7 linked regions of the Homo sapiens genome follow. The protein of the gene in region 1 purifies or fractionates together with the protein of each later gene. This does not show direct contact. Each region holds a gene or a part of one and is shown on either strand. Other genes may lie near its edges.

Evidence for each region.
Region 2: the proteins of RNF123 (region 1) and CDK5R2 purify together in Homo sapiens (affinity purification with mass spectrometry, with the first as the bait; one large-scale study listed by BioGRID). This does not show direct contact.
Region 3: the proteins of RNF123 (region 1) and MCM3AP purify together in Homo sapiens (affinity purification with mass spectrometry, with the first as the bait; one large-scale study listed by BioGRID). This does not show direct contact.
Region 4: the proteins of RNF123 (region 1) and ZNF582 purify together in Homo sapiens (affinity purification with mass spectrometry, with the first as the bait; one large-scale study listed by BioGRID). This does not show direct contact.
Region 5: the proteins of RNF123 (region 1) and KDM4D purify together in Homo sapiens (affinity purification with mass spectrometry, with the first as the bait; one large-scale study listed by BioGRID). This does not show direct contact.
Region 6: the proteins of RNF123 (region 1) and FRS2 purify together in Homo sapiens (affinity purification with mass spectrometry, with the first as the bait; one large-scale study listed by BioGRID). This does not show direct contact.
Region 7: the proteins of RNF123 (region 1) and EDAR purify together in Homo sapiens (affinity purification with mass spectrometry, with the first as the bait; one large-scale study listed by BioGRID). This does not show direct contact.

Annotation. Positions count from the first base shown.
Region 1 is NC_000003.12:49,692,038-49,696,258, reverse strand, and holds part of RNF123 (E3 ubiquitin-protein ligase RNF123), read right to left. Parts: intron 1-4,221. UniProt on the Homo sapiens protein: Catalytic subunit of the KPC complex that acts as E3 ubiquitin-protein ligase. Promotes the ubiquitination and proteasome-mediated degradation of CDKN1B which is the cyclin-dependent kinase inhibitor at the G0-G1 transition of the cell cycle.
Region 2 is NC_000002.12:218,958,194-218,962,996, forward strand, and holds CDK5R2 (cyclin-dependent kinase 5 activator 2), read left to right. Parts: upstream 1-1,472; 5' UTR 1,473-1,627; coding exon 1,628-2,731; 3' UTR 2,732-3,962; downstream 3,963-4,803. UniProt on the Homo sapiens protein: Activator of CDK5/TPKII.
Region 3 is NC_000021.9:46,278,967-46,283,187, forward strand, and holds part of MCM3AP (germinal-center associated nuclear protein), read right to left. Parts: intron 1,610-4,221; coding exon 1,531-1,609; intron 1,172-1,530; coding exon 1,027-1,171; intron 1-1,026.
Region 4 is NC_000019.10:56,383,171-56,387,391, forward strand, and holds part of ZNF582 (zinc finger protein 582), read right to left. Parts: intron 2,015-4,221; coding exon 693-2,014; 3' UTR 1-692. UniProt on the Homo sapiens protein: May be involved in transcriptional regulation.
Region 5 is NC_000011.10:94,993,921-94,998,141, forward strand, and holds part of KDM4D (lysine-specific demethylase 4D), read left to right. Parts: intron 1-3,103; 5' UTR 3,104-3,452; coding exon 3,453-4,221. UniProt on the Homo sapiens protein: Histone demethylase that specifically demethylates 'Lys-9' of histone H3, thereby playing a central role in histone code. Does not demethylate histone H3 'Lys-4', H3 'Lys-27', H3 'Lys-36' nor H4 'Lys-20'.
Region 6 is NC_000012.12:69,473,109-69,477,329, forward strand, and holds part of FRS2 (fibroblast growth factor receptor substrate 2), read left to right. Parts: exon of another isoform or gene 1-1,100; intron 1,101-4,221. UniProt on the Homo sapiens protein: Adapter protein that links activated FGR and NGF receptors to downstream signaling pathways.
Region 7 is NC_000002.12:108,912,361-108,916,581, forward strand, and holds part of EDAR (tumor necrosis factor receptor superfamily member EDAR precursor), read right to left. Parts: intron 405-4,221; coding exon 318-404; intron 1-317. UniProt on the Homo sapiens protein: Receptor for EDA isoform A1, but not for EDA isoform A2. Mediates the activation of NF-kappa-B and JNK. May promote caspase-independent cell death.

The sequences.
Region 1 (4,221 bases):
TGCTGTCTGCATAGCACATAACCTGTCCGCTCTCAAAGGTGGCTGTGCTGATGATGTCTGGAAGAAGAAGGCTGGGAGAAATGCTGGTTCCCAAAGTGGTCAGTACCAAGGCCACCTAGTCCAACCCTTGCCCCTAGGCCTGTGGTTCCTTTGGGGCAGATTCCAGTCTCGCCACCACCCAGCCAGGGGAGTCTGTGTTGAATGGGACATGTTCTGGAAGTATGAAAGGCTCAGCCCTCTGAGCTGCTGGATGGCTCTGTCCTGTACCCGCCAGTCCATAAATGGTCAGCGGAGCACATGACCCACCTACCCGAGCCAAAGGAGTTGGGAAAAATCTGTCTGGGTGGCCCCCTCATCCTCTCAACACACAGGCCTAGAGGGAAAAGGGTACTGTCTAATGCCAGTCAGTGCTGTCCTGAGCTCAGCTGCTAAGAATAGCAGGGAGTGAGGTGGTGGTAACCAGCAGGACTCAGGCAGAACAGAGGCCCATTACACACCTGGCTGCCCACAGGGTGCCACCACCTGCTCTTCCACCTTTAATGCCAGTTCTTACCCCACTCATCCACACAGACAGAAAGCTCTGGAAGGGGACAAAGGTTGGACAAGCACCCTGACAAAGTAGCCACTACCCAGGCTCAGGGATCACATATTCCCCAGTGTAAGCCACTCCCAGCCCTGAGCTGTAGGAGCAGAGATGCACAAAGGCCCCTCCCCACTGCTGCTCTGTCCCAGGCCAAGGCCAGGTGGTGGCTATGCAGTCGGGGTGCTCAGCTAGTAGCATAGAAGGCTAAAGCCAACCCCATCTCTGAATACCCCAGTGGGCCCAAGGATAAAGGAGCCTTCCTCAAAAGCAGTTACAGGCCAAGCATGGTGGCTCACACCTGTAGTCTCAGCACTTTGGGAGGCTGAGGTGGGAGAATCACTTGAGCCCAGGGGTTTGAGACCAGCCTGGGTGACACAGTAAGACCCTGTCTCTTAAAAAAAAAAAATTAGCTGGGTGCTGTGGCATGTGCTTGTGGTCCCAGCTATGTGGGAGGCTGAGGTGGGAGGATTCCTTGAGCCTGGGACTTTGAGGTTGCAGTGAGCTATGACTGTGACATAGCGAGACCCTGTCTCAAAAGAAAACAGTTCTTAACAAGCCCACACTTGGAGCAGCTACTCTTGTACCTGACCCCAAAAGTCGTGTGCCTGATCCTGAGAGCAGACTGCACATATCTGTGGGCAGTCGGCCTGAGACAGCCACCACTGAGTGCCTACAGCACTGCCCATTTGGCCAAGACCAGCAACTTCCCTGACCTTTTTGGATCTCCTAGGTCCCAGTTCAGGGCCCTGAATACCCACAACCACTGACTGACAGCCCTACCACCTGCTGTCTCTCCTGGCGGCCACAGCAGCAGCAGCAGCAGTAGGACCATCTCTGGTATCACATGAGGTAGGGATCAGATGGCTCTGAGAACAGGCCAGGACTGAGTATGGGGTGGGGGTGGGCAGGAACTCTCTGCAAGCAGGCACTTTCTGACCACCACAGTTGCTTAAATAGAACAGGTAACGTTGCTGCCTTTTGGACCTGCCTAAAGGGCAGAAGTCGTAAAAGACAGAACAGCTAAGGCTGATGAGGGGGTGAGAGACAGGGACAACCGTGCCTCACTGCAGGGAGGGAGAACCTACTTGATCCTTTGAAGAAGTAATCTGGCAACAGTCTTAAAAGTGACTGCAGTTCAAACACTCTAGCCACACGACTCCAGCCCTGGGCATCCTCACAGCATTGTTTACAAAAGCAAAAGTCCTTCCAAACTAGGGCACTGGTATGGGCCACAGCAGACCCCCTGGCCCTAAAGATGCTCAGTAAGATAAATTGATAATGGGGAAAAATACTCACGGGATAACATTTGATGATAAAAATAGGATGCAAACTTCTATAGACTTTTGGAAGTGAGGGACATGTCCATTACCTTGATGGTAGTGATGGTTTCACGGGTTTTATATATATGTTAACACTTATCAAATTGTACACTTTAAGTATGTGTAGTTTATTGTATATTAATCATAGCTCAATAAAAACGTTTTAAGAAAAGAACTGAAGGTGATAAATTTTTTTAAAGTTTTCTATACAGCATAATCTGAACTACATACATTATAAGATAAACAGACATGAAGTTAAAAAGCTTCTGCATAGCAAAGTAAACGATCAACAAAGTGAAGAGACAGCCCACAAATGGGAGAAAATATTTGTAAACTACCCATCTGACAAGGGATTAATAACCAGAATATACAAAGAACGCAAACAACTCTATAGGAAAAAAACTAATAATTCCATCAAAAGATGGGCAAAAGATACGAACAGACATTTCTCAAAAGAAGACATACGAATGGTAAACAGGCATATGGAAAGGCATTCAACGTCACTGGTCATCAGAGAAATGCAAATCAAAACTACGAGATATCATCTCACACCAGCTAAAATGGCTTTTATCCAAAAGACAGGCAATAACAAATGCTGGCGAGGTTGTGGAACCCCTGTATGCTGTTAGTGGGAATGTAAATTATAATAGTGCAATCACTATCGAGAACAGTTTGGAGGTTCCTCAAAAAACTAAAAATTGGTCAGGTGCGGTGGCTCATGCCTGTAATCTCAGCACTTTGGGACGTCGAGGTGGGAGGATCACCTGAGGCTAGGAGTTCGAGACCAGCCTGGCCAACATGGCGAAACCCCATCTCTACTAAAAATACCAAAATTAACTGGGTGTGGTGGTTTGTGCCTGTAATCCCAGCTACTCGGGAGGCTGAGGCAGGAGAATTACTAGAACTTGGGAGGCAGAGGTTGCAGTGAGCCAAGATCATGCCACTGCACTCCAGGCTGGGCAACAAGAGCAAAACTCCATCTCAAAAAAAAAAAAAAAAAAAAAAAAAAGGCCAGGCACACTGGCTCACGCCTGTAATCCCAGCACTTTGGGAGGCCGAGGTGGGCGGATCACGAGCTCAGGAGATCAAGACCATCCTGGCTAACACGGTGAAACCCCGTCTCTACTAAAAATGCAAAAAATTAGCTGGGCATGGTGGCGGGCACCTGCAGTCCCAGCTACTTGGGAGGCTGAGGCAGAAGAATGGCATGAACCTGGGAGGCGGAGCTTGCAGTGAGCTGAGATTGTGCCCCTGCACTCCAGCCTGGGCAACAGAGCAAGACTCCGTCTCAAAAAAAAAAATTTTTCAAAAAAAAAAAAACTAAACTAAAAATTGAGCTACCATATGATCCAGCAACCCCACTGCTGGGTATATACCTGAAAGAAGGGAAATCAGTATATCAAAGAGATATCTGCATTCCCATGTTTGTTGCAGCACTGTTCACAATAGCCAAGATTTGGAAGCAATCTAAGTGTCCATCAACAGATGAATAAATAAAGAAAACATGGTACATATACACAACGGAGTACTATTCGGCCATAAAAAAGAATGAGATCCTGTAATATGCAACAACATGGATGGAACTGGAGGTCATTATGTTAAATGAAATAAGCCAGGCAGAAAAAGACAAACATTGCATGTTATCACTTATTTGTGACAGCTAAAAATTAAAACAATTGAACTCATAGAGGCAAAGTACTGGATGGTTACCAGAGGCTTGGAAGGGTAGTATAGGGCTTGTGGGGAGATGGGGATGGCTAATGCGTACAAAAAAATTGAATTAATGAGACCTATCTGGTAGCAGAACAGAGTGACTATAGTAAATAATAATTGTACATTTAAAAATAACTAAAAGAGTATAACTAGATTGTTTATAAGACAAAAGATAAATGCTTGAGGGGATGGATACCCCATTTACCATGATGTGATTATTACGCATTGCATGCCTGTATCAAAGTATCTCATGTACCCTATAAATATATATACCTACTACATACCCACAAAAATTAAAAATTAAAAATGTAACACAAAGAAAGAAACAGAAAAGAATCACATTTGAATAGTCATGTTAAAATAACAAGATAGCAGGTGCTTTTCCTTCTTTTTTTAGAGACAGGGTCTTGCTCTGTCACCCAGGCTACAGTGCAGTGGCATGCAGAGGCCAACTCACTGCAGCCTCAACCTCCTAGGCTCAAGTGATCCTCCCACATCAGCCTCCCTAACAGCTGGGACTACAGGTGCACACCACCATGCCCAGGTAATTTCTGTATTTTATTGTAGAGATGGGGTCTTGCCATGTTGCTCAGGCTGGTCTTGAAC
Region 2 (4,803 bases), on another chromosome or scaffold:
CTGTACCTCTGGTAGCTGGAACTGCAGCCCAAGTGGATTCTAGAACAGCCTATCTGCAGTGACACACACACACACATATATGCACAAACCAACCCTGACAGCAGTGGATCCTTGGAGCTATGTTTGCGGTCTGTGAGGAGCATGGAGGTGACTCCAAGGGCAATCCTTAGAATTTACTGAAATACATAGGCAGGGGTTTGGCTCCACATGGAACCCATATGCACCTACAAGGTCCACTTACTTAAGAAGCCTGAAGGCTCTTGTGCTGGGGGAGCCACAGAGAGCAGGCTCCAAGAAGGGTGGACATGATCTAACAAGGCAGATAGAATAGGTCCAGAACTAGCTGTGCTCAAGACCTGCAGGTAAGGCCTGGGGAGTCCAAAATCCAGGGCAAAGGGCTGATGGGTACTCAGGAGGTAACAGACAGACCCAGAGAGAAGTGGACAGGACCCAGCCTAACAGCTTGCTCCTGGGAGTGGGGACAGCTGGAACCTTACCTGCAGGAAGCATTTAATGATGAAACCCACCTCAACCTGGACCCAGGGCTGGGCTGGAGGTTGGTCCAACCCTCTTGGGCTTCCGTCCACACAGGAGGCTCCGTTCACTATCCAAGACTGGGTAGACCAAGTGATCCAATTTCTAGCGTTTCCCCAGGGACCAACCTTATCCATCATCCACCCAAGTATGAGATCTGTGTGTGTTAGTGGGGACAACCAACCGAGAGGAGCTGCCCAGGGACCAGAGCCAAGGGTCTGCCCCACAGGCTCAGTTGCAGAGAATCAGGACGGCAAGCAGAAGCCTCAGGGGCATATTTGAGACCTTGCTGCTCCCCCTCTCCCCCTCAAGCTGGAACCCCCAAGAAGGCGGGTTGTGACCTGCAAGAAGGCTCTGCCAGGACTCCCAAACAGGCAGGGCAGAAATGTGCCTGCTGCAGCCCCCCTAGCGACCTGGGGGGTGGGGGGCGAGGTGGGGTCGCGAAGAGGAAACAGACCTGACAGTCACATTGGAGGAGCCAGTGCAACGCGACCCATCTGGGACCTGGGCATCCGGTGAGGGCACTCACTGCTCACACTGGCCCCCCACACAAATTCAAAGGCAGAGGGAAGGAGAGCTGTTCCCATGGTTTATCTGCTACCGCGACCCAGTGCATCAGAACAAGCTGGTCCAGGCCCTAGGATCCGGAGGAGGCAGGAGCAGCCACCACCCCTTCTCAACTCTGACCCTGAGGAGGCCACTCGAACGACGACCACCGCCTTCCCCTTCCTCCGCTCGGGGGAAGGGAAAAGACTCAGGGCGGAGGGTGGGGATTGGGGCGGGACTTGAAATTGAAGTGCGAGAGTCTATTGGTCATTGGAGCTGCCCATCAGGAGTGCAACTCGGGAGCGGATTGGCCGCGTGAGGCGGGGCACGGCGCGACGAAAAAAGGGGCCCAAGGGGTGGGGCTGACGCTGCAGCTGGCGCAGCTCAGGATTAGAGCAGCGGAGCCGCCTAGCAGCCACCTTCCCCCGCCAGTCCGCGCGCCCGGGCCGGGGCTAGGCCCCCCACCGCCGGGTCCCCCGGGGCTGCAGTAGCAGCGGCGCCGCCCGCGGCTCCCGCTGGGGCCTGGGCGCCGGCCCCGCTCTGCAGGATGGGCACAGTGCTGTCTCTTTCGCCTGCCTCCTCGGCCAAGGGCCGGAGGCCCGGCGGGCTGCCCGAGGAGAAGAAGAAGGCGCCGCCCGCGGGGGACGAGGCGCTGGGGGGCTACGGGGCGCCGCCAGTGGGCAAGGGCGGCAAAGGCGAGAGCCGACTCAAGCGGCCGTCCGTGCTCATCTCGGCGCTCACCTGGAAGCGCCTGGTGGCCGCGTCCGCCAAGAAGAAGAAAGGCAGCAAGAAGGTGACACCCAAGCCGGCATCCACGGGCCCCGACCCCCTGGTCCAGCAACGCAACCGCGAGAACCTTCTCCGCAAGGGCCGGGATCCCCCCGACGGCGGCGGCACCGCCAAGCCCCTGGCGGTGCCAGTGCCCACCGTGCCCGCGGCTGCCGCCACCTGCGAGCCACCGTCGGGGGGCAGCGCGGCCGCTCAGCCGCCGGGCTCGGGCGGGGGAAAGCCTCCGCCGCCGCCTCCCCCAGCCCCGCAGGTGGCGCCGCCGGTGCCTGGCGGCTCGCCGCGGCGGGTCATCGTGCAGGCGTCCACCGGCGAGCTGCTGCGCTGTCTGGGCGACTTCGTGTGCCGACGCTGCTATCGCCTCAAGGAGCTGAGCCCGGGCGAGCTGGTGGGCTGGTTCCGCGGTGTGGACCGCTCGCTGCTGCTGCAGGGCTGGCAAGACCAGGCCTTCATTACGCCTGCAAACCTGGTGTTCGTGTACCTGCTGTGCCGCGAGTCGCTGCGTGGGGACGAGCTGGCGTCGGCCGCCGAGCTGCAGGCCGCCTTCCTCACCTGCCTCTACCTCGCCTACTCCTACATGGGCAACGAGATCTCCTACCCACTCAAGCCCTTCCTCGTGGAGCCCGACAAGGAGCGCTTCTGGCAGCGCTGCCTGCGCCTCATCCAGCGGCTCAGCCCGCAGATGCTGCGGCTCAACGCCGACCCCCACTTCTTCACGCAGGTCTTTCAAGACCTCAAGAACGAGGGCGAGGCCGCCGCCAGCGGCGGGGGCCCACCGAGCGGGGGCGCGCCCGCCGCCTCCTCGGCCGCCAGGGACAGCTGCGCGGCCGGAACCAAGCACTGGACTATGAACCTGGACCGCTAGGGATACCCAGGGGCCGCGCCCATCCCCCGCCCCAGCCCCTGACACACACTCGGACCCCCCGGGACCACAAAGCCACCGCCGCTGTTACCGCCGCTCAGCGCCCCGGCTGGGCGGAGGAGGAGACGCCCATGCCCCTCAGGGGAAAGTGGAGACCGGGACACCAGAGGCCGCGGTGTTTGGATTTGCTGGGCGTGGAGTGGGGACGGAAGATGAGCGCGGGAAAGGCACTCCAACCTCACTCTTCCCGTCTGTCTGCGCCCCCATTTCTCCATTTCTGCCGGGGTCTCCCCCTTCCCTTCAGCCCATTCCCCCTCGGTTTTATCCATTTCCTTGCCTCCTTTTTGTGTCTTCATTTTTCCTCCTGTCTGCATTCCTCTCTCTCTCTCTCCCTCTCTCTCCTGTTCCTCTCTTTCTTCCTCCCTCTCCCTGCCTTTCCATTTTCCGTTCCTTGGGTTTGTGTGTCTGCATCTCCATCTTACCCCTTGCCTGACTGTACCCCGTAGACCCCTGTTTCTCCTCCTGCACCTGTGTCCCCATCTGCCCTTCTTGTTGCTCCTGTCATGTGTCACCATCTTCCCTCCTGTCTGCCTTCTTCCTCCACTTGTGTCAGCTTGCATTTTTTTATTCCTGACTGAGTCACCACACCCCTCTCCCCTGATCAAAGGGAATATTAGTTTTTAATTTGGATCGACTGAGGTGCCAGGAGAAACTGCAGTCCCAGGTATCCAGACAGCCACCAGGATGGTCCCTCGCCCCACCCCCACCGCCTCTCCCCACCTTTTCCAACGTGTTGCATGCTGGGAGCTGGGGGGTGTGGGGGAAGGGGCTGCCGGCTTCTTTCAGGAGGCTGAGGTTTGGAGGCAAAATCAACCTGGGAGACCACCCCGGCCGCGGCGCCTCAGTGGACAGGTGGGAGGAAAAGAAAACTTCTTACCTTGGAGGAGGGACATCCCGCTTCCTTATCCTTAGCTTTTTTGTTGCTCCTCCCCACTGCCCCTTTTAATTTATTTGGTTGTTTGCGGAGGGAGGGGGGAGGGGGGTAGGCTGGGCCGGGAACTGTCCGAGGTGCTGAGCTGGGGCGGGACCGGAATCCTCCCGGTAGGGTACCAGGGACTGAGTTGGGCCTGGGGCCGTGTCCAAGGTGCCAATGATGCGGGCCGACAGAGCGGGCCGCACTGTCTGTCTGTCCGTCTGTCCCGGAAAGAACTATAAAGCGCTGGAAGCGCCTGCAGATGGTTTTGCGCCGGTCTTTCTTTGGGCCCCGGGAGGGAGGGAGTGGGAGTGGTAATGGAACTGTCACAGACAGAGCAGAAAGGCAAGAGATGGGGCTCTAGTAGGGGAGATCAAGTACCTGAGAACTTCTCCTCCTCCCCATCCCCACCCCCGCCATCGGCTTCCATTTTACAGAGAGTAAAGAGTAAAGCGAGGCAGCTGAGGGTGAGGCCTGGTGATAAAGCTGAATCCATCCCCCCACTTCCGCCTCCATCTTGTCTGACCTAGCTCCTCATTAATGCCCGGGCCACTTAGAGACCGAATCATGGGGACAGCGGAGTTGTGCCCTTTCTGTGATGAGACCCATTGAGGCAGAACTAGCTAGTCCTTATTGCTATTTTTCCCTTCCTCCCCATCTCTCCCCACCATATATCGGTCAAGAGTACAGTCGGGCCTAAGTCTGTGTTCACCACTCCCAAGTGGGGCCTGTCTGCCATACTTCTCTCCTCATCCCCCAACCACCATGGGGCTGCTTCGACGATGCCCAGGTCGCACGCCCACTCAGGAGTCTTGGGGGGTCCATCCCTGCTTGAGACTCAGACCCTTGCCCTTTATCCCCAAGAAGGGGCAAACAAGGGCAGTTGGGGAGAAGGAAGCCATTCTCTGGGATTGAAACAGGAAGGAAAATGCGCTATTTAGCCTGAGATCCCTGCTCGGTCCCCATTGCCTTCTTAGCCACGTGGCTAAGCGCCCTGTTCACTGTTTCATTGGCCCAAAGAGGCCTGGCTTCAACAGAGTGCCCGCGGCTCCGACCCTAGTCTGGCCGTGGCCGAGAAGATCCGGAAAGAACCCGGGGGGAC
Region 3 (4,221 bases), on another chromosome or scaffold:
CGGCCAGGAGACAGCTCTTCAGGAAAAAAAAAAAAAAAAAAGTAATGCTGGAAACTGCTGAAAGTGATTATTAGAAATGCATGGTTTGGCCGGGCATGCATCTCTAGTCAGGAGTTCGAGACCAGCCTGGCCAACATGGTGAAACCCCATCTCTACTAAAAATACAAAAATATTAGCTGGGCGTGGTGGAGCGCACCTGTAATCTCAGCTACTAGGGAGGCTAAGGCAGGAGAATTTCTTGAACCCAGGAGGCAGAGGTTGCAGTGAGCCAAGATCGTGCCACTGAACTCCAACCTGGGCAACAGCCAGACTGTGTCTCAAAAAAAAAAGGAATGCATGGTTTATTACAGCCAGTTAAATGTCTTGAGGTAAAAAGTTATTGCTTATACATTTATATGTCAAGTGGAACTGCACTTAACTGCAGTGGGATTCAGGACGAGTTAGATGAGCAAGGAGATTTCCTACTACAATCCTGTGAGGCAGGCAGCGACCCGCCACAGGGCGCCAGCCTGCGTGTGTCCCACAGAGCAGGCACTCTGTGCAAGGACAGAAGTTCTGCTGTCCTAAGTGAGCAGCCTCCCCTGGATCTCCTGTAGCTGCAGCTGAAAGGTCTGTACCAGCTATAACAACTGTGTGATGAGATTCTCCCATAGAAAATGCCAAGATGGAAACAAGAAAAAAAGGCCAGCCCCAAAGGAAGGCTTTCTCAGCAACCTTGGCCCTAGGGTATATGAGAACAAGACAGGACAGAATCACTGCTCTCCACCATCTCTGCAGCTGGCAGTTACCAGTGTCAGAAAATTCTCTCTTCTGGCTGGGACCACCAGCCCCACACAGACCCACCTCCTAACGGCCCATGCTGGCAGGAGGGGCAGAGCCCCTGCCCCTCCACCCCCAACCATCCCTAGCAACTGGCTTTTGTCTCCTCACCACTCCCCACAGTCTTGCACCCTGACTCAGGTGTCGCTATAGGGCGCTATTTCCTGGTCCTTCCGGAATAAGGTCATTAGGAGGGACCGATCCCACCTTTTATTCAGGAGGCTGCTAGCACCAGTCCTCCCTGCGGCCTTGCCAAGAGGAGAGTGCTGAAAGGGTGCATCCTCTGTGCTCGGGCTGACTTCACCGTCACCTGGTTTCTTCTCCTTCAGGGAAAAGGGTTTCTTATTGGGGCCTGTGGACATAGGAGGCAGAAAAGAGTTTATGCAATCACAGATCACCTGGAACTGGATTTTTTCACTCTGTTTCTAAGAAAGTAATATTATTTTCATTGTCACAGGAGGTTAGAGAAGAGCCCAAGGAAATAACTGTGAGATGCAAATCCACTGAGAGCCAGCCTCCTCCACTGGCTGGGGAAAGGGCTCACGCTCAAAGGGTTTGGACCAAGAGCATGAGAAACTGAAAAGAGGGCCATGCACAATGGCTCATGCCTGTAATCCCAAGATCAGACTGGGCAACATAGCGAGATCTCATCTCTATAAAATAAATAAAAATAATTTTTTTAAAAAGTGAAAAGAATAATTGAAAACTCACTTATTTTCTTCCTGTGCCAAAAGATAGCCATGTCTTTATGCAAACTTTTCCCCTTCTTTCTAGCCAGGGCTGCAGATGCCTGGAAAACAGTCCACAACCGCCATGTGTGAGTATATCAGGAAACCAAAGGAAATGGGATTGAAAACTCAAATGCAGTAAGCACAACAGACCATTCAAAGGCACCAGGAGCTCCTGTCCTTTGCACGACAGTGATTTCTCCACCCACACGTCTGCTAACTGCATGGTCTCTGGCTGCGGCAGCAGCAGTATTCATCTCCCTTACCTGTCTCACAAGCATGTATTTGCTCTTTCCCCCTTTTTTTTTTTGAGACAGAGTCTCGCTCTGTCAGCCAGGCTGGAGTGCGGTGGTGAGATCTCAGCTTACTGCAATCTCCACCTTCAGGGTTCATGCATTCTCCTGCCTCAGCCTCCTGAGCAGCTGGGACTACAGGCGCCCGCCACCACATCCGGCTAATTTTTTGTATTTGTAGTAGAGACGGGGTTTCACCGTGTTAGCCAGGATGGTCTTGATCTCCTGACCTCAGGTGATCCGCCCACCTTGGCCTCCCAAAGTGCTGGGATTACAGGCGTGAGCCACCGCGCCCGGCCCCTTTTTTTTAATTAACAACTTTGCTTCATAGAACTCACAAACTTGGCCTTGTTGGCATTTGGTGAGATGATTCTCACCAGCTGATCACACATACAGAGACAGAAAGTTTGCGAAGTCACAATTAAGCACAAAAGGGAGCTGCAGAATAACACACATGGGATGCCACTTACCACAGAAAACACACACAAAACCAACCACGTTAGTCTCCGTGTAGATACACTCATAAAAATGTCTAAAAAAATACACATCACACTAGTTAACTGGACTGCTCCTGAGTAACAGGAGAGATGAGGATATTCAGTTTTGTCTGTATCAATGAATTGTTTATAAAGGCAGTCTATTTACATATTAGTTATGTCATAAAATATTTAAGGTTCAGCTGGGAAAATAAGCACATTGCAACAGGCAAAAAATAACTGTAAAAACAAAAGGGGGTTGGGCATGGTGGCTCATGCCCGTTATCCTAGCACTTTGGGAGGTGGAGGTGGGAGGATCACTTGTGCCCAGGAATTTAGGACCAGCCTGGGCCACATAGTGAAACTTCATCTCAAAAAAATAAATAAATAATAAAATAACAATAAAATAAATAGTAGTAATAAATAATAAAAACAAGGCCAGGCATGGTGGCTCACGCCTGTAATCCCAGCACTTTGGGAGGCCAAGGTGCGTGGAACACTGAGGTCAGGAGTTCGAGACCAGCCTGGCCAACGTGGTGAAACCCCCTCTCCACTAAAACTACAAAAATTAGCCAGGCATGGTGGTGCACACACAATCCCAGCTACTTGGGAGGCTGAGGGAGGAGAATCGCTTGAACTGGAAAGGTAAAGGTTGAAGTGAGCCAAGATTGCGCCACTACAATACAGGCTGGGAGACAGAGCAAGGCCCCGTCTCAAAAACAACAACAACAAAAATGAGAGCCGGTACAATGACTCAGGTCTGTAATCCCAACATTTTGGGAGGCTAAGGCAGGAGGACAGCTTGAGGACCGGAGTTCGAGACCTGCCTGAGCAACACAGTAAGACCCCATCTATACAAATGTAAAAATACAAACTTTTTTTAATTAAAAAAATTAAAACTAAAAACAAATTAGGATTACCATATGACCCAGCAATTCCAATCCTAAGAATATACCCCAAAAAACTGAAAGCAGGGACTCAAATAAGTCATATGCCAATGAACATTATTCACAATAGCCAAAAAGTAGAAACAACCCGCGTCTGCCAACAGACGAATCAACAAAACGTAGTCCATCCACTCAATGTAGTATCATTCACTTTATAAATTTATACTTTATAAATTCCTATAGAACGTAATTTTGTCTATGAGAATACTCAGAAAAAATAGTGACGATATAAAGCTATATAACATAAGCAGTCCACGTTCACTGCACCCTAGAAAGTATTATGCATACATTTAGGCTGGGCGCAGTGGCTCACGCCTGTAATCCCAGCACTTTGGGAGGCCGAGGCAGGCAGATCGTGAGGTCAGGAGATCGAGACCATCCTGGCTGACACAGTGAAAGCCCGTATCTACTAAAAATACAAAAAAATTAGCCGGGTGTGGTGGCGGGCGCCTGTAGTTCCAGCTACTCCGGAGGCTGAGGCAGGAGAATGGCGTGAACCCGGGAAGTGGAGCTTGCAGTGAGCCGAGATCATGCCACGGCACTCCAGCCTGGGTGACAGAGCAAGACTCCATCTCAAAAAAATAAATAAATAAATAAAAAGAAAGTATTATGCATACATTTAAAGTCAGGATACAAACCCAGTGCTTCAAAGCAGTTATCTCTAGAGGACAGACTGACAAGGGGAATTTCACTTTTTTTCTTTTTCTTTTTTTTGAGACGGAGTCTGGCTCTGTCTCCCAGACTGGAGTGCAGTGGCACGAACTCGGCTCACTGCAACCGCCGCCTCCCGGATTCAAGCAATTCTCCTGCCTCAGCCTCCCGAGTAGCTGAGATGACAGGCGCGAGCCACCACACCCAGCTAATTTTTTGTATTTTTAGTAGAGATGGGGTTTCACCGTGTTAGCCAGGATGGTCTGGATCTCCTGACCTCATGATCCGCCCACCTTGGCCTCCCCAG
Region 4 (4,221 bases), on another chromosome or scaffold:
ATGGTTGTCTGTGCCAGTCACATAAAACAATGTAACAATGTGGAAATTAAGAAATATTCTCCTAAATTTAGATTATTTCTGGATCAGAAAGAAACAAAAACTGAGATTATTGTAAGATGGTCTCTTTATTTCATCATTTTCTGTTACTTTCTTCTTTCACTGCCTGGATGTTTGGTAGACTTGAATAGCATGTTTAGTGCATATGAGTTTATCTTTCAGATTTTCATGTATATGCATGCATTCAAAGGCTATAAAAATTCCTCCAGTGTAGCTTTGGCTTTCCCCTTACCCTCACATCTCTTTGGCCACATTTCACATCTCTTGGCATGTTAAACTCTCAATTCATTCTTTTCATTACCATTTATGGTAATTGCATGATTTCTTTGTTAAGCAAATGATAATCTGGCTGTTTTTTTAACTTGTAAGAAAACTATAACTTTTGCTCTTGATAAAATTACTACACTGTGGTTAGAAAATGTGGTTCTGGAATGTGTTAGAAATAAAATTTCTCCCAACCTTTCCCAGCATTTTTGACAATTATGATCTGAACAATTTACATCCATAAAATTTTCTTTGATATGAATTTTCAGACTTAGGATAAAGGCTTACCTCTGAATGAAGGCATTGTCACTGGCATTACATTCTTCAAGTCTTTCTCCAAGAGGGAGAAGTAAGTCACAGTCACAATTAGCCTAGGCTAATGGGCTTTCCCCATTACTTCCATTCATATGGTTGCTTGCCAACATAAATTCTCTGATGATTAGTAAGGGGTAACTGCTGATGGAAGGCTTTTCTACATTTATTATATTCACATGTGTTTCTCTATTATGCATTCTCTGAGGTTGAACGGTAGTTGAATCATGACTCAAGGTCTTCTCACATTCCTTATATTCATAGGGCTTTTTCTCAGTGTGAATAACCTGATGATGAATCAATTGTGAGCAATGACTAAAAGCCTTCCCACATTCCTTACATTCATATGGCTTTTCACCTGTATGAATTCTGTAATGTACAGTAAGATGTGAGACCCGTTTGAAGGCCCTACCACATACCTTACATTGGTAGGGTTTCTCTCCAGTGTGAATTCTCTGATGTTGCTTGAGTTGTGAGCTCACTCTAAAGGCCTTTCCACATACTTTGCACTCATAGGGTTTCTCACCGGTATGAATTCTCTGATGTCGTATAAGAGTTGAGCCTTGATTAAAAGCCTTCCCACATTCCTTACATTCATAGAGTTTCCTGCCAGTATGAACAGTCTGATGTTGAATCAACTGAGAACGATGACTAAAGGTTTTCCCACATTCCTTGCATGCATAGGGTTTTTCACCAGTATGAATTCTATAATGTACTTTAAGATGTGAGATCCGATTGAAGGCCTTGCCACATTCCTTACACTGATAGGGTTTCTCGCCTGTGTGAGTTCGCTGATGTTCAATCAACTGTGAGCTTCGACTAAAGGCCTTCTCACAATCTTTACATTCATACGGTTTCTCACCAGTATGAACTCTCTGATGTTGTATAAAATTTGAACCAGAATTGAAGGCCTTTCCACATTCCTTACATTCATATGGTTTCTTACCAGAATGAATATTCTCATGTTGAATTAGTCGTGAGCCATATTTAAAGGCCTTCCCACATTCCTTACATTTATAGGGTTTCTCATTAGTATAAATTCCTTGATGATTAATAAGGAGTTCCTTTTGCCAGAAGTCTTTTCTACATTTATTATACCCAAAAGGTTTTTCTCTAGTATGAATTTTCTGATAAAAAGTAAGGGATGCATGCTGGTCAAAAGTGGGCATTTCTTCATGTCTGATGATCATCTGATGGAAATGTCTGTCTGGATTTCCCTGTTGTCTGTCAAACTGGTTTCTGCATTCCCAATCATCTTGGAAACTTGAACACTCAAGACCATAACTTGTAAGGCTTTCCATTATCTCCCATTGGGGTGATTCGACTTCATAAACATGCTGCTTTGGAAATAATTCCTTGGTATCATATCTGGACTCCAATACTAAGAATGAAAAAAAGCGAATATGTTTGGCTTCTTTTTTTTTCCAGATAAAGGAACTAAAATAAGAACTGGAGGGTTTAGACTCAATGCCTATTAACTCTTGAATGTAGCTAAGCAATTATAAAATGGACAAGTAGAACAGTGAAAGGAAAATAACATACATGAGATGAGGGAGGCAATAAGAGAGGTTATAAAAGTGATTCTAAAATGTTAGTGTGGGGCTGGGCATGGTGGCTCATGCCTGTAATCCCAGTGCTTTGGGAAGCCAAGAAGGGAGAATCACTTGAGGCCAGGAGTTTGAGACCAGCTTCAGCAACACAGCAAGACCCCATGTCTACAAAATAATTTTTAAAAATTAGCCAGCTGCAGTGGCACATGCCTGTAGTCCCAGCTGAGAAAAGAAGACTGCTTAAGCCCAGGAGTTAGAGGCTGTAGAGAGCTATGATCACGCCAATGCACTCCAACTTGGGTGACAGAGGGAGACTTTAAAAAAAAAAAAAAAAGAGTTGGTGTGGGTCAGAATCACTATTGAACAATATTTTTTAAGACAGTAAATGTTTCTGTGAGACTCTAGAAAAGACAAATATAGAGTGACAGAAACCAAAGCAAATCATTGGTTTGACGGACTGTGCAGGAGGGAGCACAAGGGAACTTTTTGGGTTGATGGAAATGTTCGCTATCTTGATTGAGGTGATGGTTATGTGGGTGTATAAATTTGTCAACACTCATTAATAGCACATTTTAAAAATGCATTTTATTGACCATAAATTATGCCCCCAAAAGAGTGAATTTTAAAAAGATGATGGGGATTTCAAGATGAAAAGAGTTCCGGAGATGGACGGTGATGATGGTTGTACAACAGTGTGAATGTACTTAACACTACTGAACTGTACACTTGAAAATGGTGAGCACGGTAAATCTTGTATTTTACCACAGTTTTAAAAAATAAAAATAAAAGTGGTGTTGGAAGTGTGTGGTTGGATCTGCAACCTGCCTCAGTGCCTGGAGGACATGCAGGAGAATGAACCAGAGGAATATGCTGGTACAGTGGCAGCTATTCTCATGTGTCCGCTAGAAGTTAGAATGACATGGCTGCTGTCTTCCTCTGTGAAGCTTTTTATATCTGAAGTTTAGCTGAACACCATGGTGTTTTTTATATCTGAAGTTTAGTTGAACGCCATGGCTGAAGCCCATTATCAACTGAATGACATTTCTTAAATTTCTTAAATGTCATGCATTTACCTGAACCTTTTCATTTCTTAAAGGTGACCTTGGAAAAAGAAGGGCTTTTTTCCTTGTTTAGAGGATTAGGCCAGTTGATTGAGGGTGGGTCCTTCTAGAGCAACATACTTTGCTGATTATTCAAACTGCATGAAAAAGCTGAATGCTATAATGGACTGTGATTCTACCTGGTACATTATTTCAGCTACAGTGGCAGGTTTTACTGTACTTATAGCAACCAACCCCAGTTGACTTAAAGAGACTCAGATATAGCTTGACTACAGGTGGGCACCACCATGCTCAGCTAATTTTTGTGCTTTTTTGTAAAGATGGGGTTTCGCCATATTGCCCAGGCTGGTCTCAAACTCCTGGGCTCAAGCAATCCGCCTGCCTTGGCCTCCCAAAGTGCTGGGATTACAGGCGTGAGCCACCATCCCCAGCCTCAAAGTACTTTTTGCTGAGAATTTGATTCTGTCCTAATTTGCTGAATCATACATCATAGATTCAAGGTGATGTGCTAACAAGGATATCATTTTTAAATGTTGCCATGAAGTTCAAATGCACCTTTTCATACTTTAAATTGATATATGTATATAACCCTTAAACGTTTATGTTCATGATAATTCTGTTGAGACTTCTGGCTAAGGATGTTGCTATACTGGTATATAAAATGTGCACAATTAAACTCCAGTGTGATACTACTCATTTCAGTATATATGAGTGCTGTATTTTGTGCAGTAGCTTTATCTTAATATGGCTCTTTGTGAATGCACTTTATAGCATTTATTGAGGGTGAAAGAGCAGGAGGGAATTCTATGTTACGTATTTCTATAAAAACATTGGTCATTTATTCAACAGAACCAGTATTCCTAACATTTGTCTGGGTTTTAGATATGTTGTTCTGCAGATCTATTCACTGTAGTGATCCCAACATTATTGAAAATTACCAAGCTTTTACTGCTCTCACCAGTGAAAAACTGTACCTT
Region 5 (4,221 bases), on another chromosome or scaffold:
AAAATCATTGTAGAATAATTTTTAAGATTAAAAAATTGGGATGAGATTGGGAGACTATCATATGATACAGGTAATCTTGTCACTTGTACATCCTCAGTGTCTCGCTTGAGTAGTGACAGCTTTAAGTAGGAGAGGAAGACAAGCTGGATTCTTGGGTTCTTCTATAAGGAAGATAAAGAGAACACACCCTGGGGTGTCTAGATGTCCTTGGGGCCTCATGGAAGACTATCATTGGATCCTCTGACAGGCACTGACCATATGTCTGGGAAAAGGGAGATGTAATAGTCAGTGGTGACTACGATAACACATTATTGCCCTTGATAGAAATAAAAGACATATAAAGGAGTAACTTAGTTTCAGGAGAAAGATCATCAATTTGTATTAAACCAGTTGACTTTCAGGGGCTCACTGGGCCATCTAAGTTGGAGAAGGAGAGCAGAAGCTTAGGAGAGAGTCAGTTATTGGAGAAAGTTATGACAATAAATAACATGTTTAAAGGGAAACAGCATGGTACTAACAGAAACCCTGAATATAAATAGGAAATTTTAAGAGAGAAAGAAAGTTAAGAGGGATAAAAATTGAACTTTGAGATGTCTGCATGTGTGTGGTAGAAGAGGAGGTAGAACCCAGAAGAAAGAAAAGAACCAGTGTTAAAAGAAGTATCAGTGCCCTGGAGGTTGTAGGAGTTTTAGGAGGAAGGGGGAGGTGTTCTGTGAACCAGTGATGTTCTGTGAACCAGATGTTCACAGAACCACTGGTTCTGTGAATCAGTGAAGTGTAACCCCTGGAGCAGAATTTGGGAGGCAGTTTGATGATTTATGGAGAACAATGTCAGTAGAAAGGTGGGGGCAGGACCTGGGGTTGGGTGGGAGAGAGAGAGAGAGGAGCCTGAGAGGAGGGAGAGAGGGAGTAAGGACAGTAGCTTAAATTAGGAAAGAGATTGATGACTGATGATTTAATAAAGAGAAAAATAACTGATTATTTAATTCAACATAGTCCTGGACCAAGTGGGAAATGTTGATTTAAGGAGTTCAAATGGAGAAATTAGCCCTAGAAAGCAGTGTTTTCTCCTGAGAGGACGGAGAACAGTGAGAAACATGGGGTGTAATCAATAGGTGACAGAGGGAAGTGTGTGCCAACTCATTTAATTAATAAAAATGTTTTGGGTGCCTACAATATATAAGAAAACCAATATTCTTGGAAAACACAATAGTGAACAAGACACAGATTATGTTCTCAATACTTTTATATGGAAGATAAGTCAAGGATAGACATAATTGTAGAGACTGAAAACACAAGCTATTGAGTTAGTTATAAATTTCTCTATACCTTGGTTTCTTCCTTCATAAAATTGGGATAATGATAGTACCAACTTCATAGATTAGTTGTGAGTTTTGAATAGGATACTATAAAGTGCTTAATAAGGGGTCTGTCTAAATGAAGTGCTAAATAAAAGTGACACTGTTCACATTATATAAGGTAGAAGTGATAAGTGGCAAGAGAACTACAGGATATGAAAGAAGATGTGCTGTTTTGTTGGGACAGTAAAGGAAGATGAACAGTCAAGTTCATCTACTTGGGAAGGAGTGGAACTTAAGAACTGACGAAGAAGGGAAAGTTTGGGAGAGAGAATGTGGGAGGGGAGAAACAGTTTGAAGTTGAATAATAGCATAAAGTCAAAACTCAGGAAGATGTCAAGACATCAGTAAAATAGGCACTCAGTTAAAAACTGCCCCTAGTTTAAAAAATCTGTTTCGAGCATCCCAATCTTTTTTGAGCTTCCCTTTCCTAGTGTCCTAACAGGACTATTTGACTAAATAGAGAAATCTAGCCCACGAACCTCCCTCAAGTTCTTATTTCCTTTTTTATCCAGGATAGATATAATGGTTCATTCTCCATTCAACCCATCAACAACCTTATCCCTTTCTCACTGAGGTATACTTGCCTGGAAAAATCCTAACCCTGATGGAACCTTACTATCTGCTTTCTTCATCTCTTTTGAATGGCCCTTCTCTATGGGGAAAATTCCTGTCATGCTAGATTGGTCCATGTAGGGCTGATACCAGTTGTGCGAGGGATAGGGGACACATACTGCAAAGTCACACGGTATGAGTTAAGGAAACACATCATCTTTATTCTTTGTTAGTTCCGTACCTTTCCTCTTTCTTTCCCTTAACTCTAATTTGCCTTTATCACTTGAATGTATAGTTTATTTTCAGTCGTTCTTTCTTTTCCTTTTAATACAATGAAATATGCCTCTTAGTTGTCTTTAACGCTTTTCCTCCTAAACCCTATTTTTAAATGAACATACAGAAATTTGTGAAAATCATCATACCTTGATGAGTTAACACAATGAGTTATTCTGATGGGTATGAAACCAGCACCCAGGTTCTGAACAGATTAACTTTACTCAAGAGATCCCCTCAAGCCCCCCTACACAACAACCCCTCTTTTCCCAAGGTAGCCACTACTCTGACTTCAAACATAGATTACTACACTTGATCTTAGCCAAAAGGCCAAGAAGCAATTCAAACATAGATTACTTTGCCTCCTTTTCATCTTTATATAAATGCAATTGTGTAATAGGTATTCTTCTGAGTCTTGATAATGTTACTCAATATTGATCTTTATAAAACTGCATTTTCATGTGGCTTTGGTTTATCTTCATTGCTATATGGTATTCTGTTGTGTGAATATACTGCAGTGTACTTATTCATTCTATTGCTGATGGACATTTGGGTTGTTTAAGTGTTTGGCTACCAGAAACAATGTTGTTATGAACATTACTGGATGTGACTTTCAGCTCACAACCATACACATTTCCTAGGCATGTGGAACAGTTGGATCACAGAACATATGTATGTTCAGTTTTAGAAGAAACTGTCCAAATAGTTTTCCAAAGTGATTATAGTGCTTCATATTCTCTGTAGTAGGGTATGAAAATTCCCACTGTTCCACATCCACACCTCCACTTGAATTATCAATCTTATAAAATTTTAGCCTCTCTTTGTAATATTATTATTCTATTCTGGTATTTAATTTCTGGATGCCTAATATTTTTTCCAAATATCAATTTTTAATCTCTGTGTATTCTTTCTTTTAGATTTTGTTCTAAACACTGAGGACATTCTCTGCTACATTTGGGTCGTACCCCCAGGTCTGAGTAATTCAATAGACTTAAGAAGACAGAGCCCAGCAGCAACCGAAACATAACAGAGTTGCAGGATCAGCTAACGTCAATGCCTGGGCAAAGCTGCTGCCCAGAGTGGAATCTCACTAGTGAATAAACAAGCCCAAGAAAGATTATCATCTCATTTGCAAAAAAAAAAGTACGCTGGTAGATCCTGCTACCTCATAGATAACACCAGTCAAATTTTTTTTTAAAGTAGCATTTTCCTACATTGTCAACTATCTAGAACATACCTAAAAACTAAGAGTTTACTGCTTATTAAATGGAAACTATGAAGTCTAAGGCCAACTGTGCCCAGAATCCAAATTGTAACATAATGATATTTCATCCAACCAAAGAAGAGTTTAATGATTTTGATAAATATATTGCTTACATGGAATCCCAAGGTGCACACAGAGCTGGCTTGGCTAAGATAATTCCACCCAAAGAATGGAAAGCCAGAGAGACCTATGATAATATCAGTGAAATCTTAATAGCCACTCCCCTCCAGCAGGTGGCCTCTGGGCGGGCAGGGGTGTTTACTCAATACCATAAAAAAAAGAAAGCCATGACTGTGGGGGAGTATCGCCATTTGGCAAACAGTAAAAAATATCAGACTCCACCACACCAGAATTTCGAAGATTTGGAGCGAAAATACTGGAAGAACCGCATCTATAATTCACCGATTTATGGTGCTGACATCAGTGGCTCCTTGTTTGATGAAAACACTAAACAATGGAATCTTGGGCACCTGGGAACAATTCAGGACCTGCTGGAAAAGGAATGTGGGGTTGTCATAGAAGGCGTCAATACACCCTACTTGTACTTTGGCATGTGGAAAACCACGTTTGCTTGGCATACAGAGGACATGGACCTTTACAGCATCAACTACCTGCACCTTGGGGAGCCCAAAACTTGGTATGTGGTGCCCCCAGAACATGGCCAGCGCCTGGAACGCCTGGCCAGGGAGCTCTTCCCAGGCAGTTCCCGGGGTTGTGGGGCCTTCCTGCGGCACAAGGTGGCCCTCATCTCGCCTACAGTTCTCAAGGAAA
Region 6 (4,221 bases), on another chromosome or scaffold:
TGTTTATTGAGCATTTACTGAACAGACTTAATGCTAGTTGCTGTTTACAGCATTTTCTTAGCTTCACAGCAATATGTAAGTACCTTAATAATGAGGACAGTGAGGCTCAAATATGTTAAGTTACTTGCCTGGGCTATGTGGCTAGCATGTAACAGCCCCAATTTGAATCCAAATCTGTCTGGTGCCAAAGCCTGTGTGTTTCTACTGCATCATGTTGCTCCCCAATAAACTGGTAACCTGAGTTTAATGTTACAGAGAATAAGACTTTTCTAAGACAAAGATTTATGGATTGGGAGTAGGTGGGTGAAGAAGGCCTTTCAAATAAAGAGAATGATGTGAGCAGAAGTGTGGAGGTGGGAAAGTTCATTGTGTACTTGGAGAAAAGTTAGTGGACCAGATTACCTGGAATATACTGTTCATTTTTGGGAATTAGAGATGAGGTTTGAATTTTAAGTGGGGGCAGGATTGTGGAGCATGTTTAAGTGCTGCTTTTAGAAGTTTGACATTTGGGGAAAAAAAGTTCGACGTTTGGGAGGTAATGAGAAGTTACCAAGGTCTAATAGAGTAGTGTGCAGAATGATTTGATGTGGAAAGCTGACTTTCAATGTAGTATAAATACTGGGCAAGGGCAGTGGTAATGGAATTAGAGTGAAGGCTCTGCAGGACCTCAATGTCGTAGGTGGGTGGCGAGGAGGAGGGGTTTTTGGAGCAGGTTTGGAGGAGATGGAAGGTGAAGATTACACTTTTGTTTTTGAGACAGAGTCTAGCTTTGTTGCCAGGCTGGAGTGCGGTGGCGTGATCTTGGCTCACTGCAACCTCCGCCTCCTGGGTTCAAGTGATTGTCCTGCTTCATCTTCCCGAATAGCTGGGACTACAGGTGCTCACCACCACGCCCAGCTAACTTTTGTATTTTTAGTAGAGACGGGGTTTCACCATGTTGACCAGGATGGTCTCGATCTCTTGACCTCGTGATCCGCCTGCCTCAGCCTCCCAAAGTGCTGGGATTACAGGTGTGAGCCACTGCGCCCAGCTGAAGATTACACTTTTTAAGTGTCGGAGATGTTGACGGTGGTACTCTTACTAGAAATACGGGCAAGGAGGTACGTAATGAGATCAGTTTTGGATTTGTTGACTTTTTTGTATACTTGCCAAACGCTGGAAATGTCCAAAGGCTTTTGGAAATGTGGATTTGTGGTTAAGGGGAGAGGTCAGGACTAGGCATATATTAAACATGGGTTTAGTGAATAATACAAATAGGTGTACTGGTTGAATCTGTGTAAGAAGATGAAAGTGCCAAGGGAGAATGTAGAGGGGAAAGAAAAAAAAAACTTCTGTTTTAAATGGCATCTGTTTAAAACAGAAGGAAATATGCTAAGTGATTTATTTTATGCAGTGGGTAAAGAATTTGATAGTATGTCCACTGCTTCTTCACACTGTAGGTTCACACGGAGTAGAAAGAATCTGATCATTAAAAATCCAATTGGGAAATACAGTTTTCTTGCCCTGGGTAGCAAGAATACTATGCTATCTTTACCCTGTTTCAGGGAGGACAAACTACTTCAGACTCATTTCATCCAGAGTGTCAGATTTGGTTACTTAAAAGCTATGTTAGCTTGTTTCTTTTGGACATTTGTTTGGCAAGTGGTATGTGAGGAGTTGGAAGCAAATCTCTGATACAGTATTTCACTTATTTATGTGTATGACATCGATTTTGGTTTCAAAATCAAGAACCTCTGAATATTCAAAGATAATATTTACATCTCATTAAGGCTGTTAATATTGCTTTTTATAGAAAATGGCATTTGATTACATATTTTTCTTCCAACTCTATTTTATAAGTTCTTTTGATTAACATGATTAGTTTTGGCTTATAATGTTTGGATTATATTAGAGGGATAGAATAAGATACTTTTATCCATTATATGATAACACATATGAAAGTTACATATTTTATTTTGGAAACTGTTTAAGAACTGTAAATTTATAGAATTTTGTGTGGTTTTCTGTTTAGGTATTTAAATAGGGGGAACTTGAGTATTAATGTGTAAAAGATTATAATAGTTTGCAGAATGAGGCTTAGAGTTGTAACTTTTTGAGGGCAAGTTTATTATTTTTAGACTGAGTTACCATGGAAGTGTTTATTTCCTTCTTGAGAATTAATACATTCCTTTTGTTTTTCAGGAATATGTTTTCCACTATATCACAGGCACTTGGGAATGTCGAAAGAGTCCTGTGTCAGTGTTGTTGGAGGCAGGGGGTTTTGTGTGTGCTTTGTCTGGGCTGTTTGGCTTAGTTTCAGTAAGCCTGGTATTAATGAGGCAAAGGTCAGGAGTTCCATTTAGCTTCAGTCTAAATGATGGCCAGGGAGTACACCCCTCACTCCCTCCAGCTGTCTTGGAAATTCCTTGGTTGTCATTGGTCACAAAGGTGACTAGATGAGGGTGGATTGTTATACCACTGGAAGAATATTAGAGGAAACTTAGGATAATGGCTGGGACCTCTGACTCTAGAATTAGATAGACCCGTGTCAAAATCCTTGGTATTCAACCTTGGGAGAGTCCCTAAACTTCTCTAAGCTTACATTTCCTCATTATTGAATAGGTTAATATTTGGTTTGGGCATTACGTATCATCACTTTCCTTTTCTCAGTGGGAGCTAGCCACTTAAGCTTGTGGCTCCCGAAGTGCTGGACTGTGGAGTAGTGTCAGTTCATGACAGAGTTTTCCTTTGAGTGAAAGGAGAATGTAGTTGGCTTCTTTAAAGCTAAATCTATTGATATGTTTTTCTAAAATTATCTTTTGCCATTTTCGATGGGCGCTTAGTTCTTTTATGAAATAGTGGTGATGGGTAATCGGTAGTTTTTGTTTTTGTTTTTTAAATGTCCTTGGCAGAATAAAAGTTGGCAGCCCTATGCTGGTCACCCTCTCCTTCCTCGTGCCCCTTTTTAAAGATTATGGTTCTGTGAAATCCGAAAATCTTGGCTTAAACAGAATCTGAGGGATTGGAGGAGACTATTCATCCACATATTTATGCATATTAAAGAAGGTTTGGGGTACATTCTGCCCTTGTGTTAGCCTACAGAGGACGTATTGTGATTCTCGCCACCATTGAATTTAATTTTGTCAAGATTCACAGTCAATACTTATAACATATTTCAAGGAGCAGTTCAGACTGTTTTCAGTTGAGTTCACACAAGTAGCTCTAAATTACTTGTTTAAGACTGTGTTTCTCAACCAGAGCCTCTGGAGAAAACTGTTGAACTGTGGGCGCTGCCTGGGGGTGCTGCTTTAAGTTATTACTCTGTTGATTAGCCAACAAGATAAATAACTCGCCTTTGACATAGTGAAGCAGCAGAAATTGGCTTTCCATTTCACTTCTTCTGCAGGAAAGATAGAGCAAGAAAAGCCTTTTTATTAATACAGCAAGTAAACCTTGTACAAATATCAGTATTCAAAATGCTTTCTAGAGAAAGAATAGTGCAGCACTGTGCGTAATGGGTTATGTAAGTGGAGTCACAGAAGTCCTCCTGGGGACACAAACCAATTATGAACATAAGTGCTTATTGAAATTGCATCAGTTGTCTAGATGAGGAGCTTATTGACTCCCTGGTTCACTTGGGTGGGCAGGCGGCTGTGGGGGAGGGACGGGGGGGGGTGTGGGGGTGGGGAACTTAAGGTGCAAACCTAGCCTAGGTGACTGTTAAATTAAGGCTTAACATTTGTTTCTTTTGAGTGTTTTTGGTTGCGTAATTTTAAAAGTTGGGAATGCTATAGAAATATTTAAATTCTATTAGAATGTCCAAGGCAAAATGTTCAGGTTAAGTAGAAATAGCTTGGACCCTCTGTTAATTTTAAAGAAAACTGTGGGTTTGCTGCTTTAGATATTAAAATGATATGGGTTTATAGAGTTATGTTGTGTATCATTGTTGCTGGTAAATAAAAAATGTTTAATTCATTTATTTTAACAGTGCTTAAATTTTTCTCTTAAAGTACTCCCAATGGCAGAAATGTGGATGAATAGTACCCTCAGAAGTCTAGGAATGCAGCCCAAAGTGTGCCTGCTATAAATTGAAGTTTTTGATGCCTGTAGGGTTTTATATTTTAAAATTTATATAAATGTTGCATTTTGCTATCTTACATGCATGTCGACAGTATTTTAAAATACTTTTTTTTTTTTTTTTTTTTTGGTTTGAGACGGAGTCTCGCTGTGTCCCCCAGGTTG
Region 7 (4,221 bases), on another chromosome or scaffold:
ACCAAAGCCCAGGACGCCTGGTCTCTCCTCCTGGCCGGGCTTGCAGCTGCCTGTGCTGTCCACCTGCCGCTATGCCCCCGCCTTCACCACCAGCACCTCCCAGCGGTCCCAGGACACCCATAGAGGGATCAACTCTGATTGCAGATATAATGACTTCCTGCACGGGGGGCAACATGTCATTCAATTACATTAGGGAGGTGAGGCCAGGTGGGGAAGCGCACCATAATCATCACTCATGATCATTTCCTCTCCTCTTCTGAGCTTTCATCCGAGTACCACCTAACTCCAGGTGATCGATACCTGAGCACCCTCCTCACCTTTGTGGGCGTGCTGGAAGGGAGACAGGGTGCTGCTGCCCGAGGTGCCAGGGAAGTTGGCAGAAGCTCCTGAAGTGGCTCCCACACCTGCAAGGAAAATAGAGTCCCTCAAATGATCCAGAGAAGCTCCACCTTCAAAGACGCTGCCACAGAGCTCATGGATCTGGATTCATGATCATGAATGGGCCTGAGGCAGTGATGGCTGAGGGGAGCTAAATATTTGTATTTCTTAGACTGTTTAATGAACCCTAAAGAGTCATCGTTATTGTTCTTTTTTTTTTTTTTTGGTGAGACGGAGTCTTGCTCTGTTGCCCAGGCTACAGTGCAGTGGCGTGATCTCGGCTCACTGCAAGCTCTGCCTCCCTGGTTGACGCCATTCTCCTGTCTCAGCCTCCCAAGTAACTGGGACTACAGGCACCCACCACCACACCTGGCTAATTTTTTTGTATTTTTAGTAGAGACGGGGTTTCACCATGTTAGCCAGGATGGGCTCGATCTCCTGACCTTGTGATCTGCCCGCCTCGGCCTCCCAAAGTGCTGGGATTACAGGCATGAGCCACCGCGCCCGGCTGGTTATTGTTCTTTAAATGAAAACACTCATGTGATAAGTCTGCTAAAACTAAACAGTGTGGGTTGGGGAGTTTTGCAAGCCTCACCAACTCAATTTTCCTATGCGTGGAGACAAAGTATATGAAATCCATAAAAATAAGCAACATAGAGTGTGTACATGAAAGTACTATTAGGGTGATACAATACTTGACTAATTCCTTCAATTACATAGAGTAGGAATGTGTTAATACTTTTTCCAGTCATAAAAGTAATATATGCTCACTATTAAAAATCTGGAAAAGGGGGCCAGGCATGGTGGCTCACGCCTGTAATCCCAGCACTTTGGGATTGTTGTTCAGCATCAGTTTGAAATAATAGCTTCTTGATTTATACATATAAATATTGTTGTGGGAAGGAGGCTGGTGATAAAAGTGTATGCGATAGCTATCTTTACGTAGTATGGGTATGAGTTCTTCTTGTTAGAAGGACAAGAGGTGGCGGATCACGAGGTCAGGAGATCAAGATCATCCTGGCTAACACAGGGAAACCCCGTCTCTACTAAAAATACAAAAAATTAGCCGGGCGTGGTGGCAGGCGCCTGTAGTCCCAGCTACTCGGGAGGCTGAGGCAGGAGAATGGCGTGAACCCAGGAGGCGGAGCTTGCAGTGAGCTGAGATTGCGCCACTGCACTCCAGCCTGGGTGACACAGTGCGATTCCGTCTCAAAAAAAAAAAAAAAAAATCTAGAAAAGGGGCCGGGCGCGGTAGCTCATGCCTATAATCCCAGCACTTTGGGAGGCCAAGGTGGGTGGATCACTTGAGGTCAGGAGTTCAAGACTAGCCTGGCCAACCTGGTGAAACCGCATCTCTACTGAATACAAAAAATTAGCCAGGCATGATGGCGCATGCCTGTAATCCCAGCTACTTAGGAGGCTGAGGTAGGAGAATCGCTTGAACCCGGGAGGTGGAGGTTGCAGTGAGCCGAGATCACACCACTGCACTCTAGCCTGGGCAACAAACGTGAAACTTTGTCTCAAAAAAAAATAAAATAAAAATAAAATAAAAATAAAAATCTGGAAAAATAAGAACACAAGAAAGGAGGAAAAGAACTACCCATGGCCTCCTTGGCTAAGTGGACTTTTGCTGTATTTCTGCCTAGGATTTTTCCTCAGACATGTTTTTACATGGTTGTGACCAAAGAGTTTCAGAGCAAGGTGTGCTTTGCCTTCCCTTAAAGCTATGCTTCCCACAACTCCCCTTCTATGGAAAAAGTGTGACTTAGCGGGGATAAAATGGAAGCTGATTTTGCTCTCAGTCAAATCACTAAGACGCAACCATTCAGCCAAAACAAAAACATTCCACCACAGAAGAGACCACGTCCTGTTCCAGACCTCCTAAAAGAAGATCAACCTTCTTTTGGGCCAGACTTCAGTTTTGCAAATAATAAAGCCAACATGCTTCAAATGCATCTCCCACTCTCTCACTTTTGTCTCTACCAGTTCTGGAGAAATCCGTGAAGTGCACTTGGTCTACAGAAAAGCAGCCCCTGAGTCAAGGACAAGGCCAGCTGCCATCCCCAAATCAAGGTACCTCCCCAGCCTGGCCCAGCCCAGTGGAATGGCCCAGCACTGTGCCTGGTCAGCCCATGCAGCAAGGCTTCCGGGAGAAGCAAGCTTCCTAGTTGGACTGTTTTTCTGTTTTGTTTGAGACAAGGTCTCACTCTGTCACCCAGGCTGGAGTGCAGTGGCACGATCTTGGCTCACTGCAACCTCTGCCTCCTGGGCTCAAGTGATCCTCCCACCTCAGCCTCCTGAGATGCTGGGAGTACAGGTGTGTGCCACCACACCTACTTTTTGTATTTTTTATAGAGAAAAATGCACGTTGGCCAGGCTGGTCTTGAACTCCTGACCTCAAGTGATCCACCTGCCTTGGCCTCCCAAAGTGCTGGGATTACAGGTGTGAGCCTGTAATCCATGCCTGGGCTGGCTGTTTTCTTTAGTAGGAAGTTCTCAGGAGAAACGCACACTCTTGTTCTGTGAGTGGGGGCAGCCCAGGAGCTAGTGACCAGCTGAGCTATCCACTCGTGTCTGCTCTAAATGGAGCAGGGCCACAGGAGAATGGGCTGGATGCTTCTCTGTCCTCACACCTTGTAAAGCAAATTGGAAGCTTGGCCAATGAAACATTGGGCTTGGGAGGGACCAGGGCAGCTATGTCATAGGGTATGTAAGAAACATCACCTGTCCACTGAGGGGCAAATGATGTTTCCTTGTGTTTCTGGATGATGAATGGAGGCTTTTTTCCTCGTGGGCCTCAAACTTATGATAAATCTTTGCTTTCTTAATTTAGCCTCTTACTTGGCCTCAGAACCAGTGTTCTTATTAGGGAAAGAGCTGCCCAGGCACGGTGGCTCATGCCTATAATCCCAGCACTTTGGGAGGCCGAGGCGGGAGGATCACCTAAGAGGAGTTTGAGACCACCCTGGCCAACATGGTGAAACCCCAACTCTACTAAAAGTACAAAAATTAGCTGGGCCTGGTGGCAGGTGCCTGTAATCCCAGCTACTGGGGAGGCTGAGGCAAGAGAATCGCTGGAACCCGGGAGGCGGAGGTTGCAGTGAGTCGAGACCACGCCATTGCACTCCATGCTGGGCAACAAGAGCGAAACTCCATCTCAAAAAAAAAATAAAAAATAAATAAAAATAAAAAAAGAGCTGGTGGAGAAGTGCGTGCCCCTAGCTGAAAGCCACAAGCCCATGTCAAACAACAGAGCGTTCCCCCTCACAGACCTTACTGAAGTTGCTCTGGAAGTCTCCAGTGTGATAAGGAGGCTTCAGATTGTGTGCCCATTTCTGTTTGCTGGGGGGTAGCCTCCCACACTTCATCAGGTGAGTGAGCATAGGGGCATCATGGCATAGTTTCCAGCATGACCTAATTTCCTTTATAAGAGCAAACAAGAGATTGAAAAGAAGCTGATCTATCTGTTCAGTAAGGCGCTCAAGGGAGCTTAAGATACACTGTCAGAGCAAAAGAACAGCCGTGGGCTGTCTGTGAATGTTTGTCATCTTCGCCTCTTCTTGTCCCTTCCTGTCGGGGCTCGCAGGCTGCTTCAGGTGACAGGGTTGGGGATGGGGACACAAATATGCCCAGGCCTGTGGTCTAGAGTGGGGCAATAAACGCAGCCTAGAGAGCACACAGACTTGTGGGATGCCTCTGCAGCCCTGCAGGGCTGGTTACACAATGACGTCCCCAAACAATGCCTGCAGATGTGACATCTTCCTGCACCCACAGGCGCCCACCTGCCCTCGGCCAGCTGTGCCTCTATCCTGATCACCGGATGGTTCCCTCCAAACACCTCCA